Linked DNA regions of Homo sapiens. The protein of the gene in region 3 interacts with the protein of the main gene of each other region in a pairwise test. Each region holds a gene or a part of one and is shown on either strand. Other genes may lie near its edges.

Evidence for each region. The genes of interacting proteins can lie anywhere in the genome.
Region 1: the proteins of KLC1 (region 3) and BNIP2 interact in binary tests that used the Homo sapiens proteins (3 or more experiments, as listed by UniProt).
Region 2: the proteins of KLC1 (region 3) and LRSAM1 interact in a two-hybrid assay, tested with the Homo sapiens proteins (one large-scale study listed by BioGRID and IntAct).
Region 4: the proteins of KLC1 (region 3) and F2RL1 interact in a two-hybrid assay, tested with the Homo sapiens proteins (one large-scale study listed by BioGRID and IntAct).

The regions. Positions count from the first base shown.
Region 1 is NC_000015.10:59,672,321-59,675,820, reverse strand, and holds part of BNIP2 (BCL2/adenovirus E1B 19 kDa protein-interacting protein 2), read left to right. Parts: intron 1-3,081; coding exon 3,082-3,184; intron 3,185-3,500.
Region 2 is NC_000009.12:127,454,510-127,458,009, reverse strand, and holds part of LRSAM1 (E3 ubiquitin-protein ligase LRSAM1), read right to left. Parts: 5' UTR 3,483-3,500; coding exon 3,411-3,482; intron 3,013-3,410; coding exon 2,956-3,012; intron 2,435-2,955; coding exon 2,390-2,434; intron 695-2,389; coding exon 617-694; intron 1-616.
Region 3 is NC_000014.9:103,694,371-103,699,776, forward strand, and holds part of KLC1 (kinesin light chain 1), read left to right. Parts: exon of another isoform or gene 1-2,785; intron 2,786-3,246; exon of another isoform or gene 3,247-4,427; coding exon of another isoform or gene 4,428-4,647; intron 4,648-4,762; coding exon of another isoform or gene 4,763-4,809; intron 4,810-4,993; coding exon of another isoform or gene 4,994-5,206; intron 5,207-5,406. Other genes in the region: DNA repair protein XRCC3, read right to left, coding at 4,428-4,647, 4,763-4,809, 4,994-5,206. UniProt on the Homo sapiens protein: Kinesin is a microtubule-associated force-producing protein that may play a role in organelle transport. The light chain may function in coupling of cargo to the heavy chain or in the modulation of its ATPase activity.
Region 4 is NC_000005.10:76,832,423-76,835,815, forward strand, and holds the end of F2RL1 (proteinase-activated receptor 2 preproprotein), read left to right. Parts: intron 1-267; coding exon 268-1,379; 3' UTR 1,380-2,893; downstream 2,894-3,393. UniProt on the Homo sapiens protein: Receptor for trypsin and trypsin-like enzymes coupled to G proteins.

The DNA of each region.
Region 1 (3,500 bases), on a different chromosome or scaffold from region 3:
CATGTTGTTGCACGTATCCACAGTACATTCCTTCTTATTGCTGAGTAGTTTTCCATTGCTTGGATAAACCATAATTTGCTTATCCGTTTTTTTTTATGTGCATGTGAGTTGTTTCCAGCTTGGGCTGTTATAAACAAAACTGCTTTGAACATTCTTGTAGAAGTCATTTATGGATATAAGTAAAACTTGGACTCTTTTTGTTTTGTTTTGTTTTGAGACAGAGTCTTGCTCTGTCACCCAGGCTGGAGTGCAGTGGCGTGACAGCTCACTGCAACCTCTGCCTCCTCGGTTCAAGGGATTCTCCTGCCTCAGTCTCCCGAGTAGCTGGGATTACAGGTGCACGCCACCATGCCCAGCTAATTTTTTGTATTTTTAGTAGAGAAAGGGTTTCACCATGTTAGCCAGGATGGTCTCGATCACCTGACCTCGTGATTTGCTCACCCCAGCCTCCTGAAGTGCTGGGATTACAGGCATGAGCCACCGTGCCCGGCCCTAAAACTTGGACTTTTTAACCTTAACTCTTAATTTGCCTTAAAACCGTGAACAAATTTTTTTTTCTTTTTTTTTTTTTTGAGATGGAGTCTCATTCTGTCACCCAGGCTGGAGTGCAGTGGCGCAATCTCGGCTCACTGCAACCTCTGCCTCCCAGGCTCAAGCGATACGCCAGCCTCAGCCTCCCAAGTAGGTGGGACTACAGGTGCACGCCACCACGCCTGGCTAATTTTTGTATTTTTAGTAGAGACGGGGTTTCACCATATTGGCCAGGCTGGTCTCGAACTCCTGACCTTGTGATCTGCCCGCCTCAGCCTCCCAAAGTGCTGGGATTACAGGCATGAGCCACAGTGCCCAGGCCAAATTATTTTTTAATAGAGAACTAGTTCACTCCACACTTCTATACAGCACCCACTTTCCATACTTATGGGATATACAAAAATACAAGGCTTAAGTCCCTGCCCTTAAGAAATAGGAAAAGCCATAAAAGTTTAAGTTATAAATCCTTTCAATCTAACAGTACCATATATAGAAGTTAACCTAGGCACATTGTAAATAGTGCTAGAATGTTAGTGGTAAGTCAGAACACAACTCACTGTAGAGCATGTCATACTACCTTAAATCCTCCTAACACAGGACGGAGGGCATATGGGTCAAGCAGATTGATTTTTTTTCAGGGTCATTTCCACTTGATTTACTCTCTGCCAGATGCATTCCCCTGCTTATTTCTACAGTCTTCATTCATCTGAAAGCAAATCACATGAATATTTGTAGTTGCATTCTTCTGCCTAATTTAATCGTACTCAGATGAAGAAAATGGCGTAATCTGCATCAGGAAGTCCACAGACATACATTATTCAGCTAGTTCACAGGAATCAAATTATAAGACCTGATTTATGGCTTAAATCTCTTATCTTTCAGAAATAGCACTTTTTTTATAGGGGAAAATAAGACCACCTTATTTTATTGCATTACCACACTTAATATATTTTGTGACTGAGTGATTAAGAAAGGTAGTGAAGATTCTGATGTTCTTGAAATGTTCAAATCTTTTCATGTGCAAATTTGTAAGCAATAGAAATGAAGGTTAAAGCAGAAGTATTTGCTACTAAATATTGGCTTAATATCTAAAGACTGCTGTTGAAACATACATATTTTAGCGCTGTTTTCCATTACTGAAAATTATGTCAGAGATGTAATTTAGTTTGTTTTTTTGTTTTTGTTTTTGTTTTTTTTTTGAGACCCAAGTCTTGCTCTGTTGCCCAGGCTGGAGTGCAGTGGTGCAGTCTCGACTCACTGCAACCTCCGCCTCCCAGGTTTGAATGATTGTCCTGCCTCAGCCTCCTGAGTAGCTGGGACTACAGGTGCACACCACCACACCCAGCTAATTGTTTATATCTTTAGTAGAGATGGGGTTTCGCCATGTTGGCCAGGCTGGTCTCAAAATTCCTGGCCTTAAGTGATCTGCCCACCTCAGCCTCCCGAAGTGCTGGAATTACAAGCATGAGCCACCTCGCCCGGCCTAATTTAGTTTTAATGTCCTAATTTCTACAAAATGCTAGCATTTTTAAATATAAACTTACCTTTTAAAAATCACCCACTTATGGCTCTGGCGATGTGGCTCATGCCCAGTGCTTTGGGAGGCCAAAGGAGGAGGATTGCTTAAGGCCAGGAGTTCACGACCAGTCTGAGCAACACAGTGAAACCCTATCTCTACAAAAAAAATTTTATAAAGGTTAACCAGGCATGTTTGTGTGCGCTGTATCCCCAGCTCCTCTGGAGGCTATGAGGTGGGAAGATCCCTTGAGCCCAGAAGTTCAAGGCTGCATGAGCTGTGATTGCGCCACTGCACTCCATCCTGGGCAATGGAGCAAGATGCTATCCTCTAAAAAAAAATTTAAAAAAGCACCCACTTTGCCGGGCACGGTGGCTCACGCCTGTAATCCCAGCACTGTGGGAGGCTGAGGCAGGCAGATCACGAGGTCAGGAGTTCGAGACCAGTCTGGCCAACTTAGTGAAACCCCATCTCTACTAAAAATACACAAAAAATTAGCCGGGCACGGTGGTGTGCGCTTATAATCCCAGCTACTCGGGAGGCAGGAGAATCGCGTGAAGCCAGGAGGCGGAGGTTGCAGTGAGCCGAGATTGTGCCACTGCCCTCCAGCCTGGACGACAGAACGAGACTCCATCTAAAAAAAAAAAAAAAGCACCCACTTTAACCATAAGCATCATAGAAATAAATAAAAATACATTGCAGTTATTGTATTGTGTCTGTATTGTATTGGGTTATATCACTATATTTGTCTACCTGCTAAAATAGGGCTGGCTTTTTAAATATGCGAATTTAAGTGGTCTTGGGTTTTTTTGTTTTTTCTGTCCACCGTCCTCTTTAAATTTTACTGTTCTCTTTTTGGGAAGAAGACATTAAAATTCTATATAAGACCATATAAGATTTACAAAACATACATTTAATACAGAAATCTGTGAAAAGTAAACTCTTATTTATAATTTACTAATCATACAGATGTCTTCTAAAAATGCCTAAGAGTAAAATCGTGCTGGTGATACTGTCTTTGGTTTCTTTTTTAGGATATTATGGGGATGGATTAAATGCCATTGTTGTGTTTGCTGTCTGTTTCATGCCTGAAAGTAGTCAGCCTAACTATAGATACCTGATGGACAATCTTTTTAAGTAAGTATATATTAAACAAAAACATTTGGACAGAATTGTGAGCTAATTAGATCTACACCTTAAGAAACTTAACCTTTTCAAAAATTATAAATATTCCAGTTCTTTGGGAGACTGAAGTGGGCAGATCACTTGAGTCCAGGAGTTGGAGACCAGCCTAGGCGATATGACAAAGCTCTTTCTCTACAAAATCAAAAAATTAGCCAGGCATGGTAGTATGGGCCTGTAGCCCCACCTACTCAGGAGGCTGAGGTGGAAGTATCACCTGAGCCCATGAGGTCAAAGCTGCAGTGAACTGTGATTTTGCCACTGCACTCTA
Region 2 (3,500 bases), on a different chromosome or scaffold from region 3:
TTCAACCAAACTCAGGTGCAAAATATTAAAAAAAAAAAAAAGAAAGAAAGCATCTGTAGTGAACACATACAGGCTTTTCTCTTGTCATTATTCCCTAAACAATATAGTATAACAGATTGGGCCTGTGCTGCTGGGCTGACACCTGTGCTGCCGGCCTCCTCTGAAGGTGCATATCACTCTCCCAAGCTCAGGTCTGCGCATAACAACCCTGGGCTCACACCTCCCACATGTTGTGAATGCCTCCCAGCCCATCCGGGGAGGAGCTCACAGTCAGCAGGGAGTCCTTCCAGATCACCTGCGCGTCCCTCCTCTTCCTTCTTGCCTGGGACCATCAGTCTCCTCGCCCTCTGCTAGCTGACTCGCCATGAGGCTGTCACTTGGCTTTCCTCCTGGCATGTAAACTCCCCAGGGACAGGGCCTGTGGCTGGTCATCTTTGTCACCCTAACCCACACACAGCCCACAGAAGTATCCAGTAAACCATACTGATCAAATCCCAGACTGACTGGTAGATTGGGCCCCTCTGACATGCAAGAGGCAGCCCAAAAGGAGCAGGCGCTCAGCTGCCGCGTGGAACCCCATGCAGAGCCCCAGCTGCCTGGGAGGAGGGCCCAGTACCTTGATGGTTGCCAGACTCAGGAGGCTGCAGGATTTGGGAAGCAGGGAAGTGAGGTGATTCGTGTGGACGATCAGCACCTGTGTGGAGAGATGTGCGGCCATGCTGGGCTGAGGAAGAGCAGCAGGCAGGGCAGGCTAAGGGCGTGGGAGCCAGCCCAGCGCCGTGCCACGCCCCACCATCTTGCTCTCCCAGACACCACCACGGGGATGCGGGTCAGTATCATGAACTCTCCCAATGGGGAATCTAATGCCCTTCCTTAAAACCTGGATCTTCAAGGGTGAAAGAGACCTTAGAGGTCTACATCTTCCTTCCATCTGAGAAGGGATCCCCCTGCAGCCATCCTGATCATAACCTTCCCAGCACCAGCGTCTTCACGTGGAAAATAGAGAATAATAAAGTGCTTGCCTCCCAGGGCTGCCATGATGTTAAATAAAAGCTCATGCGCAAAACTTCCAGGGCTGGCAGAGGGGCCAGGGCTCAGTCCAGGTCATCTACTGCTATTTTTCCTTTTCTTTTTTTTTTTTTTTGAGACCAACTCTTGCTCTGTCGCCCAAGCTGGAGTGCAGTGGTGTGATCTCAGCTCACTGCAACCTCCGCCTCCCAGGTTCAAGCAATTCTCCTGTCTCGCCCTCCCGAGTAGCTGGGACTACAGGCGCATGCCACCACACCCAGCTGATTTTTTTTTTATTTTTGGTAGAGACCGGGTTTCACCATGGTAGCCAGGATGGTCTTGATCTCCTGACCTCGTGATCTGCCCACCTCGGCCTCCCGAAGTGCTGGGATTACAGGCATGAGCCACCGCACCCGGCCAATCTACTGCATTTTTCTTAGGCATTGACTGCGGCCCAACACTTCCAGCACAGACTGGGCGTGGTGGCTCACACCTGTAATCCCAGCACTTTGGCAGGCTAAGGCAGGTGGATCACTTGAGGTCAGGAGTTCGAGACCAGCCTGGCCAACATGGCAAAACCTCATCTCTAAAAATACAAAAATTAGTTGGGCATGGTGGTGGGCGCCTATAATCCCAGCTACTCAGGAGGCTGAGGCAGGAGAATTGCTTGAACCCAGGAGGCGGAGGTTTCAGTGAGCTGAGATTGCACCACTGCACTCCAGCCTGGGTGACAGAGCAGAGCGTCCGTCTTCAAAAAAAAAAAAAAACAAACAAAACTTCCAGCGCCAAGGAGCTCACTACTCTGTTGGCAGGGAACACTTTTTTTTTTTTTTTTTTTTGCATATTCTCATTTAGATACTTCACTTAGAGCGCTTCTACCCATCTGCATTCAAAGCTGCAATGCTCTGCTGAAAAATCATTCACTCCCCTCTGAATCTCCCCTGGGTGACCAGAATAAAAGGCGTGAGTTTCTATTATTACTAACACCGGGGTTCATAAGCCTTTACTACGTGGTAGGCATGTACACTCAGTATATTTCTATCTCTATCTAGCTATCTACCACTCATTTAATTCTCACAATACCTCAGGAAGGAGAACTATGAATGTCTTCATTTCACAGGGGAAGAAACTGAGAAGTAAGAGTTTAAGGAAGTTGCCCAAGTCATGAAGCCAGTGAGGGCAGAGTTAGAATGTGACACAGGAAGGTCCAACCCCAAAGCCTACTCTCCTATCTGTGAAAACACCTGCTGCAGGCCAAGAGCATAAGAAGCAGAGAGAAAGGAGGTGTCTACGCCGGGAAGACAGCTCCTCAAAGTCCCTTGTGGGTTCAAACAAGCAGACATGCAACAAGAAAGTCTCTGAAGATGAAGCTCCATCTTACCTTCTTCTGCAGAACTTTGCATGTTGCAAAAGCTCCAAATGGAATCTAAGATAAGATAAAGAAGAGTAAGTGTCTCCCCTCCTGCCAGTTTTTAGCTTGTTCTCTGAGTGGCATTCACGTGAGGAAGAGACAGGCAGGAGGTGAACAAGGGCAAAACGCCACAGCAGGTGGCAGTGCTGAGCCCAGGGGCAAGGCTGGCAAGCAGTGGTGTTGGGGATGTGGCCAGCCCTTCCCTCGGTCAGCTGGCAGGAGACTGCCCTGCCCCACCCACCCTGTCCCCATTGTGAACCCCTTCAGGGGCTGGAGAATGCCAGGCCCTTCCAGCAATGTAGGAGTCTATGGGTACATTTTCTACCTAGACTCCTTGACTCTTGGAGACTACGTTATATTGAGGCCAAAGGATCATCTTCAATTATTTTGGACGAGAACAAAATCTAAGGAAACATCTCGTGACTAGAGCTTCTGGCCTTTCTAAAGCCCCAGTCCACCTCTGTCTTTCCTAGGGACACAAGATCCAAGAAAACGGGACAGATCCAATTCACAGCCCAACACTATCCTCAGTTTACCTCTGAGAGCTCACATTTAGAGATGTCGAGAATGTCATCTGCCCCAGCTTCTTTTGCCTAAGGATAAAAAGAATTTTTAAAAAGTATTAAGACAAAACACCTTTGCAGAGTGGACAAGCCAGGCAAAGAACATAAATGTAAGCAGCTGCAAAGGACCATAGACACTATCTGGTTCCACTGGTCCATTTGGCAGGTGAACCAATGACCCCTGCTTTCCCAGAGCTTGAGGCCCAGAGGGATGAGGAACTGAAAAGCAATGACAGTGCGCTCAGTCTACAGGGGAGAAGCACCCTTGGCAGGGGGCCTCATCTGTTGGGTCTAAGTCAAATATTTCTTCTGTGGGTGGGGGAGGCAGATGGGAAGGAGCACGGCTTGTTGGGGGCAGTGCGGAGGCCTACTCCATGGGGACCGAGGAGGAGATGGGATAGAGTTAGAGGAAACCCACTTTCCCTCACCAAACACATCTGGTACTCCAGGCGTTTCCGAGCCTCCTCACTGGGTTTCCGCTTCCGGAAGAAGAGCGGCATCCTTCCCTTTTCCCAGAG
Region 3 (5,406 bases):
CCTCCCGAGTAGCTGGGACTACAGGCACCCGCCAGGCGGATCACAAGGTCAGGAGATCGAGACCATCCTGGCTAACATGGCGTTTCACTTTTTAAAAGCTTAAGCTTTATGGAATGAGGGAGCACGGTGGACTCTGACAGGAACCTTTTCAAATCAATGCTGAGGCTGTATTTCTTAGCCGTCCACAAACTAGTCCATAGGTAAAGAGCATACAAAACAGACGCCGAGGTGATCAGTGATTCCAAAGGCTGACGCTCAGCAGCGCCACCTCCATGCCAGCCAACTAGGCTACGGGATGGAGGGGCGGTCTGTGAAACACCAGCCATCCCGTGAAAGCTCAGCTTGCCACTGTCATGTAACAGGGTGGGTGGTGGCACAGCAGAGGCTCACACTTGTCACCTTCAGCCTCTAGAAGCTCCCCGTGGGGCACGAAGGCTGGGGACAGAGTGTCCTGAGGTTTTGTTACAAGGCTAGACTTTAAAATACCTTTCAAAGTTTCATCCCGCCTCATGTCGCAGGACTGCTGTGTTTGTGAAAGCGCGTTTGTTTCCACAAGACAAGCTCCGTGTAGTCGCCAGCGGGTGCCTGGCCCAGGAGCTGCCCTGTGGAGCCAGCGTTGTCCCCGAGCTGCTCGCCTGTGGCCGTGGCTCCTTTTCTGAGGCTCCTGACTCCATTCTTGCAGATTCTGGTGGATCAGGAGCTTACATTCTAAATGCTACATAGAGGTGTTGAAGAAAATTTCATAGGTTCTGTAATAGTGGATGGGATTAAAAGAAAAAATGTTAAATTATATATATATATATGGCTGGGTGCGGTGGTTCATGCCAGTAATCCTATAATCTTAGCACTTTGGGAGGCTGAGGCGGGAGGATCACTTGAGCCCAGTTCAAGAACAGCTTGGGCAACACAGCGAGTCCCTGTGTCTAGCAAAAAAAACCATGTGTATATATATATATATGTGTGTGTGTGTATATATATATATATATATATACATACATATATATACATATATAATTTGATGGGTTGTGAGAAGCCAACCCCCCCCAAAAAAAGGGGGGTGTAGAGCAGCTTCCCCTGACAGGTGCCGTGGCTGCCCCCGTAGTGGGCTATGTCTGTGCACAGGCGACAGGGAGGAGGGCTCCGGAGCTTCCCTTGTGGTGGGGGTGCCTTCTCCCTGTGAGGATGCTGAGCAGAGTTTGGAACCCAGACAGTTTCCCTTAGTGACAGTTATCTGGAAAGGAAAAAGGGCATTTAGAAGGAATAAACATAGGGCTGAATATGGAGTTGAATTTTAACCTCTTCAGACTGATGGGTGCAGACGAGGTTGTGTGGGGCCTCTGTGGAGCCTGCTGTGGCTTCCAGCCATGGGACTTTAGGGCCGAGGTGGCCTCTGCAGCACTGTGGCTGTGGGAGCACTGTGTGTTGGGGTAAGAGAAGCCAGGGGGCCTCCCTGAAGCCAGCTCATAAAGGAAGGTTCGTGTTTCAGAGGGAGGCGGCAAGGGAATCTGAGTACCTGAGTCCCCGATGTTTGAACCCTTCCACCCAATAGAAGTGCGGTGATTTCAGCCATTTCCCATCTGGCGGTCTGAATTTTTCCCTTCAGAGGAGAGAAGTGGTGGGCCCAGGCATCCCTCCTCCTGTGTGTGGTCGTTCTGGTGAGAGGAACCCCACGCGAGAGTCAGCACCTGTTTCTTCAGAGTTGCTGTCAAAATAATCACTGCGCCCCCGCCCCCCGCCCCCCCCCACAGCAGCCGTGTGTGCAGCGCCCGTCCCCAGCAACCATGGCATGGGAGCGTCTGGATCTGTGGGCGGACAGCATATCTCTGGGTAGTTGGTGCAGCTGTGGCAGAAATCAGGCCCCTGGGGAAGTCCTGTGACATGGATGCTTCCCTGAAGCAGCAGCAGTGTGTGGCTCAGGGGTCCTCAGAGGCCGGTGGTGCCCGCGGGTGGCACGGGGCACTCTCATGGGCAGCACTTGGTCTTGTGTTTACAGTATTGGAGGGATTCACATCGTTGTTTTCTGGATTAAGCTGCTAGGAGTATCATGTACTTAGAAATTCAGTGTTTATAGTAAGATGTATTAAACATTGCTAATGATGTATCGTTACAATGTATAACAGGTTTTCCATTGTCATAACTGTATGGAATTTTCTTGGAGGATGTCATTAGCTTCTGTTTGCACTGACTTGTGAGCTGTGTGTACGCTGTGGTCAGATTTCTGAATGCTGTAGAGCACTTACCAGCTCTGACCGTGTCTTGCTGGGGCCAGCAGGCTGCGTGTGCAGCGGGGCCAGCTGTCTCAGGGCTGATATGTAGACGTGTATTCTGTTTACAATTAGTTCCCCAACTCTGTGGGGAAGAACTTAAGCGGTTTTAGTGTTTTATAATATGGTGAGGCAATGAGGGTCAGGGCGCGTGGTCCCTGAGGGAGGGTCTTCAGGGCAAGACCCATGGCCCTGGCCTGGAACTGTGCTCCCCAGGGCGTGGTGCCTCCCTAAGGGGATGGTCAGTGTTCTGGGACTGACTGCCAGGCCAGCCCGTCTGCAGACTCCTGTGGTGGGAGTTCCCTGGGACGGGAAGCCCCTCGGCCCCTTCCCTCCAGGGGCAGGAACTGAGCCAGCATGGGCGGGGCCGGCCGAGCTTCCAGGCGTGTTTTCTCTGTTAAATGTACCTCTGTCTTTAAGCTGTCTCATTTTCTAATCGCTGGCATGTCTTGCCTAGAAAAGCATTTGGAATTGCTTATGTTCAATTACAGAAATAAAATGTCTTACTTGCCATTGTAGAATTCCTGCACTTTTGCAGAAAGGCTGTTTTGTAAAAATCCAACCCCAAAATAACTTTTTCCCATGTTCATGCCAGTGATTCTTAACTTTAGGGTCATAGAGAGCCTTGATAACATGATGAAGGTTTAAACGGATTGTCCCACCCTGGAAAACGGCAAACAGAAAAATTCTGCACAGTATGGCCCCAGCCCTTACCTTTCCCCCAACCAGTGCCAGCCCCCCTTCCTCCCACTGTAGGAGCACCCACAGGCTCACCCTGGGCACATAAGGTGGGGGGTGACAATTTCTGCCTCTGGGTTGTGGGAGGAGTCAAGCTACTTAACGGTTCTGGGCCTGAATTTCCCTACCTGCAAGTGGAGATGTAACAGTACCTATCCCTAGGAGTTGTGAGGAGAACATACTTCAATGTGTATAAATTACTCAGAGCAGTGCCTGGCAGACAGCAAGAAGCAGGTCCTGGAACTGCATCCATTGAACATTTATTTGTCAAAGGCCTGGTCTGTGCCAGGCAGCATGTGGAGGCACTGAGTGGGGGGTGGAGGGGGTTGTACGGTGGGAATCAAGGGGGTCACCACTGTGCCCATGGGGAGGCCACGCCACTCTGCCTGCTGGGTGGATATTTCAGCCTGTGCAGCCAGATGTGTTCCCAGGAGGCTCTGCTTTCCAGCCAGATGTAAGGCCTGGCCACAGTGTGGGACTGGGTCTGCACAGTGTGGGACTGCAGGACAGGGTCCTGCAGGTGGCCCTGCCAGGAGTCCTGCCATATCCCTACCAGAATACCACCCAGCCAGGCCAGGGCTGAGCTGGACGCCCAGACCCCCAGGGCCAGGATACACCGGGACCCTCCTTCCTCTCAACCTCGGATCCTCTTTGCCCAGAACTGTGTTCCCAGGTGGCTGACGAGCCTGTCACGTGCCAGCCCTGCGCTGCCTGCGCTCCTCTGACCGGCTGTGGTGCTGGCACAGGCCACACTACTAGAGACAAGGCAGTCCCCCCACCCCCAGGCTCTCCTGGACCCTGACACTGGAGGTTGGTGGGATATGCTTTCTCCACCTTGTACCACACTGAAGTTTTGTGGGGCACAGTGTGTGCCGAGGTGGGGCCCCCGGGAGCCAAGGACCCAGAGGTGGGTGAGGAGGAGCCGCCTGCCTGCAGCCCCACTGTGGCCTGAGTGGTGGGGGAGTAAGGACTGCCCTGTGTGCAGGAGGGGAGACCCTCGTGGGCACGGTCCCAAGGCTGAGGGGGTCTGAGGCCCCAGCCCAGGGGGCAGGCCTCAGACGCAACCCCAGTTGGGCTTCCATGTGGAGAGAAGAAGCAGGCGGCTCCCAGGGAGTCACTGTAGGACACCCCAGGCTCCAGCCCTGAGAATCACCTCTCCCCAAGGGCCAGCTCAGCAGTGGGGACCAGGTACCCAGCAAGCGGGCCTGTCCCCAGACCCAGGGAGAGGCAGAACATCCCCCCAGCTCAGATGGGGGTCAGTCTGTGGCCACCATCTTCGGATGAGAAAGTGGAGCCGCTGCCCTGGAAGAGCTGTGTCTGAACCAGGCTCCCAGCTGTGCCACGGCCCAGGCAGACGCGTTTTAAAGGCCCGAGCCCCGTGTGTCGGGGCTTCTCAGGCAGGGCTGTTGTGCAGCCGCCACCGTGTCAGTGGGACTGGGTCCCAGGTGTCCCTCGCACCCCTTCGGCACTGATCGTGTAGGAACAGGAGGAGGGGGGCAGGTGGGGGGCAGAGAGCACCCGCAGGGTCCGGGCTGGGCAGCCGAGGGCAGCCTCTTCCTCGCGGAGCCGGTCAGCCAGCAGTCTCACCAGGAGCTGGTTAGCCCAGGTTATGCCAAGGGCTGGGGAAACACGTTCGTCCCAGAACCTGAGAAACAGGAAGCAGGCAAGCTGGCGCTCAGGCTTGGTGGCCCCGCCCACTTCGGCCCAGCTGTGCCCCTGGCACCTGCACAGAGGTGCACACACCACATGGCTGCACTCACCCCAGCGGCCCGTGTGCTGCGCCCTGCTCCTCCATGGCCTCTGTCACCTGGAAGAGCACAGTCCAGGTCAGCTGCAACGGCTGAGGGTCTTCTCGATGGTTAGGCACAGGCTGCTACCCGCAGGAGCCGGAGGCCACCTCACTGCCACCCGCCCCACCTCCAGACCGGCTCTGCTTCCGCATCCTGGCTAAAAATACGAGCTCAGGGGTGCAACCCTGCCTTGGTGCTCACCTGGTTGATGCACAGCACAGGGCTCTGGAAGGCACTGCTCAGCTCACGCAGCGTGGCCCCCAGGGACTGCAGATGCCTGGCCCTGGGGGCGGAGGCCTGGCTGTCAAATTCACAGCGGAATGGGGCTGCCACCGAGTCGATGACCACCAGGCGAGCCATGCCCCGAGACAGCAGTACGGGGACCTTCTTATTCACACACTCCAACAAGGTGTCCTGTGGGGACAGCTGTCATTGTCTATGCTGGTCAGCAAGTCCCCGCCCCAGGTGACCAGACCCCGTTTGGACTGTCACTCGACCGTCTGAAAACCTTCCTACCCACCTGGGGCTCACAGTGCCCATACTCTGTAGTCCCCATACTCTGAGCCCAATTCTGTATTTTTCTCAAAGAGGCCCCAACTATAGAAGCTTCAGGC
Region 4 (3,393 bases), on a different chromosome or scaffold from region 3:
GAGATCCTATCTCTACAAAAAGTAAAAAATTAGCTGGGTGTGATGGTGTGTGCCTGTGGCCTGGCTGTTTAGGAGGATTGCTTGAGCCCAAAAGTTTGAGGCTGCGGTGCATTATGATCGCTCCACTACGCTCCAGCCTGGGTGACAGCGAGACCCTGTCTCATAAATTAAAAAATGAATAAATGAATGTACTTTCATTTGAACAAACCAGTGTTACTGCTGAAACATTTATTTCTGTAATGACCCTTGTCTTCCTTTCTTGTACAGGAACCAGTAGATCCTCTAAAGGAAGAAGCCTTATTGGTAAGGTTGATGGCACATCCCACGTCACTGGAAAAGGAGTTACAGTTGAAACAGTCTTTTCTGTGGATGAGTTTTCTGCATCTGTCCTCACTGGAAAACTGACCACTGTCTTCCTTCCAATTGTCTACACAATTGTGTTTGTGGTGGGTTTGCCAAGTAACGGCATGGCCCTGTGGGTCTTTCTTTTCCGAACTAAGAAGAAGCACCCTGCTGTGATTTACATGGCCAATCTGGCCTTGGCTGACCTCCTCTCTGTCATCTGGTTCCCCTTGAAGATTGCCTATCACATACATGGCAACAACTGGATTTATGGGGAAGCTCTTTGTAATGTGCTTATTGGCTTTTTCTATGGCAACATGTACTGTTCCATTCTCTTCATGACCTGCCTCAGTGTGCAGAGGTATTGGGTCATCGTGAACCCCATGGGGCACTCCAGGAAGAAGGCAAACATTGCCATTGGCATCTCCCTGGCAATATGGCTGCTGATTCTGCTGGTCACCATTCCTTTGTATGTCGTGAAGCAGACCATCTTCATTCCTGCCCTGAACATCACGACCTGTCATGATGTTTTGCCTGAGCAGCTCTTGGTGGGAGACATGTTCAATTACTTCCTCTCTCTGGCCATTGGGGTCTTTCTGTTCCCAGCCTTCCTCACAGCCTCTGCCTATGTGCTGATGATCAGAATGCTGCGATCTTCTGCCATGGATGAAAACTCAGAGAAGAAAAGGAAGAGGGCCATCAAACTCATTGTCACTGTCCTGGCCATGTACCTGATCTGCTTCACTCCTAGTAACCTTCTGCTTGTGGTGCATTATTTTCTGATTAAGAGCCAGGGCCAGAGCCATGTCTATGCCCTGTACATTGTAGCCCTCTGCCTCTCTACCCTTAACAGCTGCATCGACCCCTTTGTCTATTACTTTGTTTCACATGATTTCAGGGATCATGCAAAGAACGCTCTCCTTTGCCGAAGTGTCCGCACTGTAAAGCAGATGCAAGTATCCCTCACCTCAAAGAAACACTCCAGGAAATCCAGCTCTTACTCTTCAAGTTCAACCACTGTTAAGACCTCCTATTGAGTTTTCCAGGTCCTCAGATGGGAATTGCACAGTAGGATGTGGAACCTGTTTAATGTTATGAGGACGTGTCTGTTATTTCCTAATCAAAAAGGTCTCACCACATACCATGTGGATGCAGCACCTCTCAGGATTGCTAGGAGCTCCCCTGTTTGCATGAGAAAAGTAGTCCCCCAAATTAACATCAGTGTCTGTTTCAGAATCTCTCTACTCAGATGACCCCAGAAACTGAACCAACAGAAGCAGACTTTTCAGAAGATGGTGAAGACAGAAACCCAGTAACTTGCAAAAAGTAGACTTGGTGTGAAGACTCACTTCTCAGCTGAAATTATATATATACACATATATATATTTTACATCTGGGATCATGATAGACTTGTTAGGGCTTCAAGGCCCTCAGAGATGATCAGTCCAACTGAACGACCTTACAAATGAGGAAACCAAGATAAATGAGCTGCCAGAATCAGGTTTCCAATCAACAGCAGTGAGTTGGGATTGGACAGTAGAATTTCAATGTCCAGTGAGTGAGGTTCTTGTACCACTTCATCAAAATCATGGATCTTGGCTGGGTGCGGTGCCTCATGCCTGTAATCCTAGCACTTTGGGAGGCTGAGGCAGGCAATCACTTGAGGTCAGGAGTTCGAGACCAGCCTGGCCATCATGGCGAAACCTCATCTCTACTAAAAATACAAAAGTTAACCAGGTGTGTGGTGCACGTTTGTAATCCCAGTTACTCAGGAGGCTGAGGCACAAGAATTGAGTATCACTTTAACTCAGGAGGCAGAGGTTGCAGTGAGCCGAGATTGCACCACTGCACTCCAGCTTGGGTGATAAAATAAAATAAAATAGTCGTGAATCTTGTTCAAAATGCAGATTCCTCAGATTCAATAATGAGAGCTCAGACTGGGAACAGGGCCCAGGAATCTGTGTGGTACAAACCTGCATGGTGTTTATGCACACAGAGATTTGAGAACCATTGTTCTGAATGCTGCTTCCATTTGACAAAGTGCCGTGATAATTTTTGAAAAGAGAAGCAAACAATGGTGTCTCTTTTATGTTCAGCTTATAATGAAATCTGTTTGTTGACTTATTAGGACTTTGAATTATTTCTTTATTAACCCTCTGAGTTTTTGTATGTATTATTATTAAAGAAAAATGCAATCAGGATTTTAAACATGTAAATACAAATTTTGTATAACTTTTGATGACTTCAGTGAAATTTTCAGGTAGTCTGAGTAATAGATTGTTTTGCCACTTAGAATAGCATTTGCCACTTAGTATTTTAAAAAATAATTGTTGGAGTATTTATTGTCAGTTTTGTTCACTTGTTATCTAATACAAAATTATAAAGCCTTCAGAGGGTTTGGACCACATCTCTTTGGAAAATAGTTTGCAACATATTTAAGAGATACTTGATGCCAAAATGACTTTATACAACGATTGTATTTGTGACTTTTAAAAATAATTATTTTATTGTGTAATTGATTTATAAATAACAAAATTTTTTTTACAACTTATTTCTGAGTTGTGCGTTTGTTTTGAGGGAAGGAGTGAGAGAAGGCAGGCAACAGCTTCACCCCTCTAAAAGTGGACACTCACACCAAACTCTGTGACAACGGTTTTTCATTTAAAAATGTTTCAGAGGCCGGGCACAGTGGCACACGTGTGTAATCCCAGCACTTTGGGAGGCCAAGGTGGGTGGATCACCCGAGGTCAGGAGTTCAAGACCAGCCTGGCCAACATGGCAAGAGCCTGTCTCTATTAAAAATACGAAAATTAGCTGGGCGTGGTGGCAGACGCCTGTAATCCCAGCTACTCGGGAGGCTGAGGCAGGAGAATCGCGTGAACCCGGGAGGTGGAGGTTACGGTGAGCCGAGATTGCGCCATTGCACTCCAGCCTGGGCAACAGGAGCGAAACTCCGTCTCAAAAAAAAAAAAAAAGTTTTAGAATTCTTTCTATACCTGCATCTGTAGGTTGACCGCTTTTCAAGGATACAGGCTATTTAACATTTTGGGT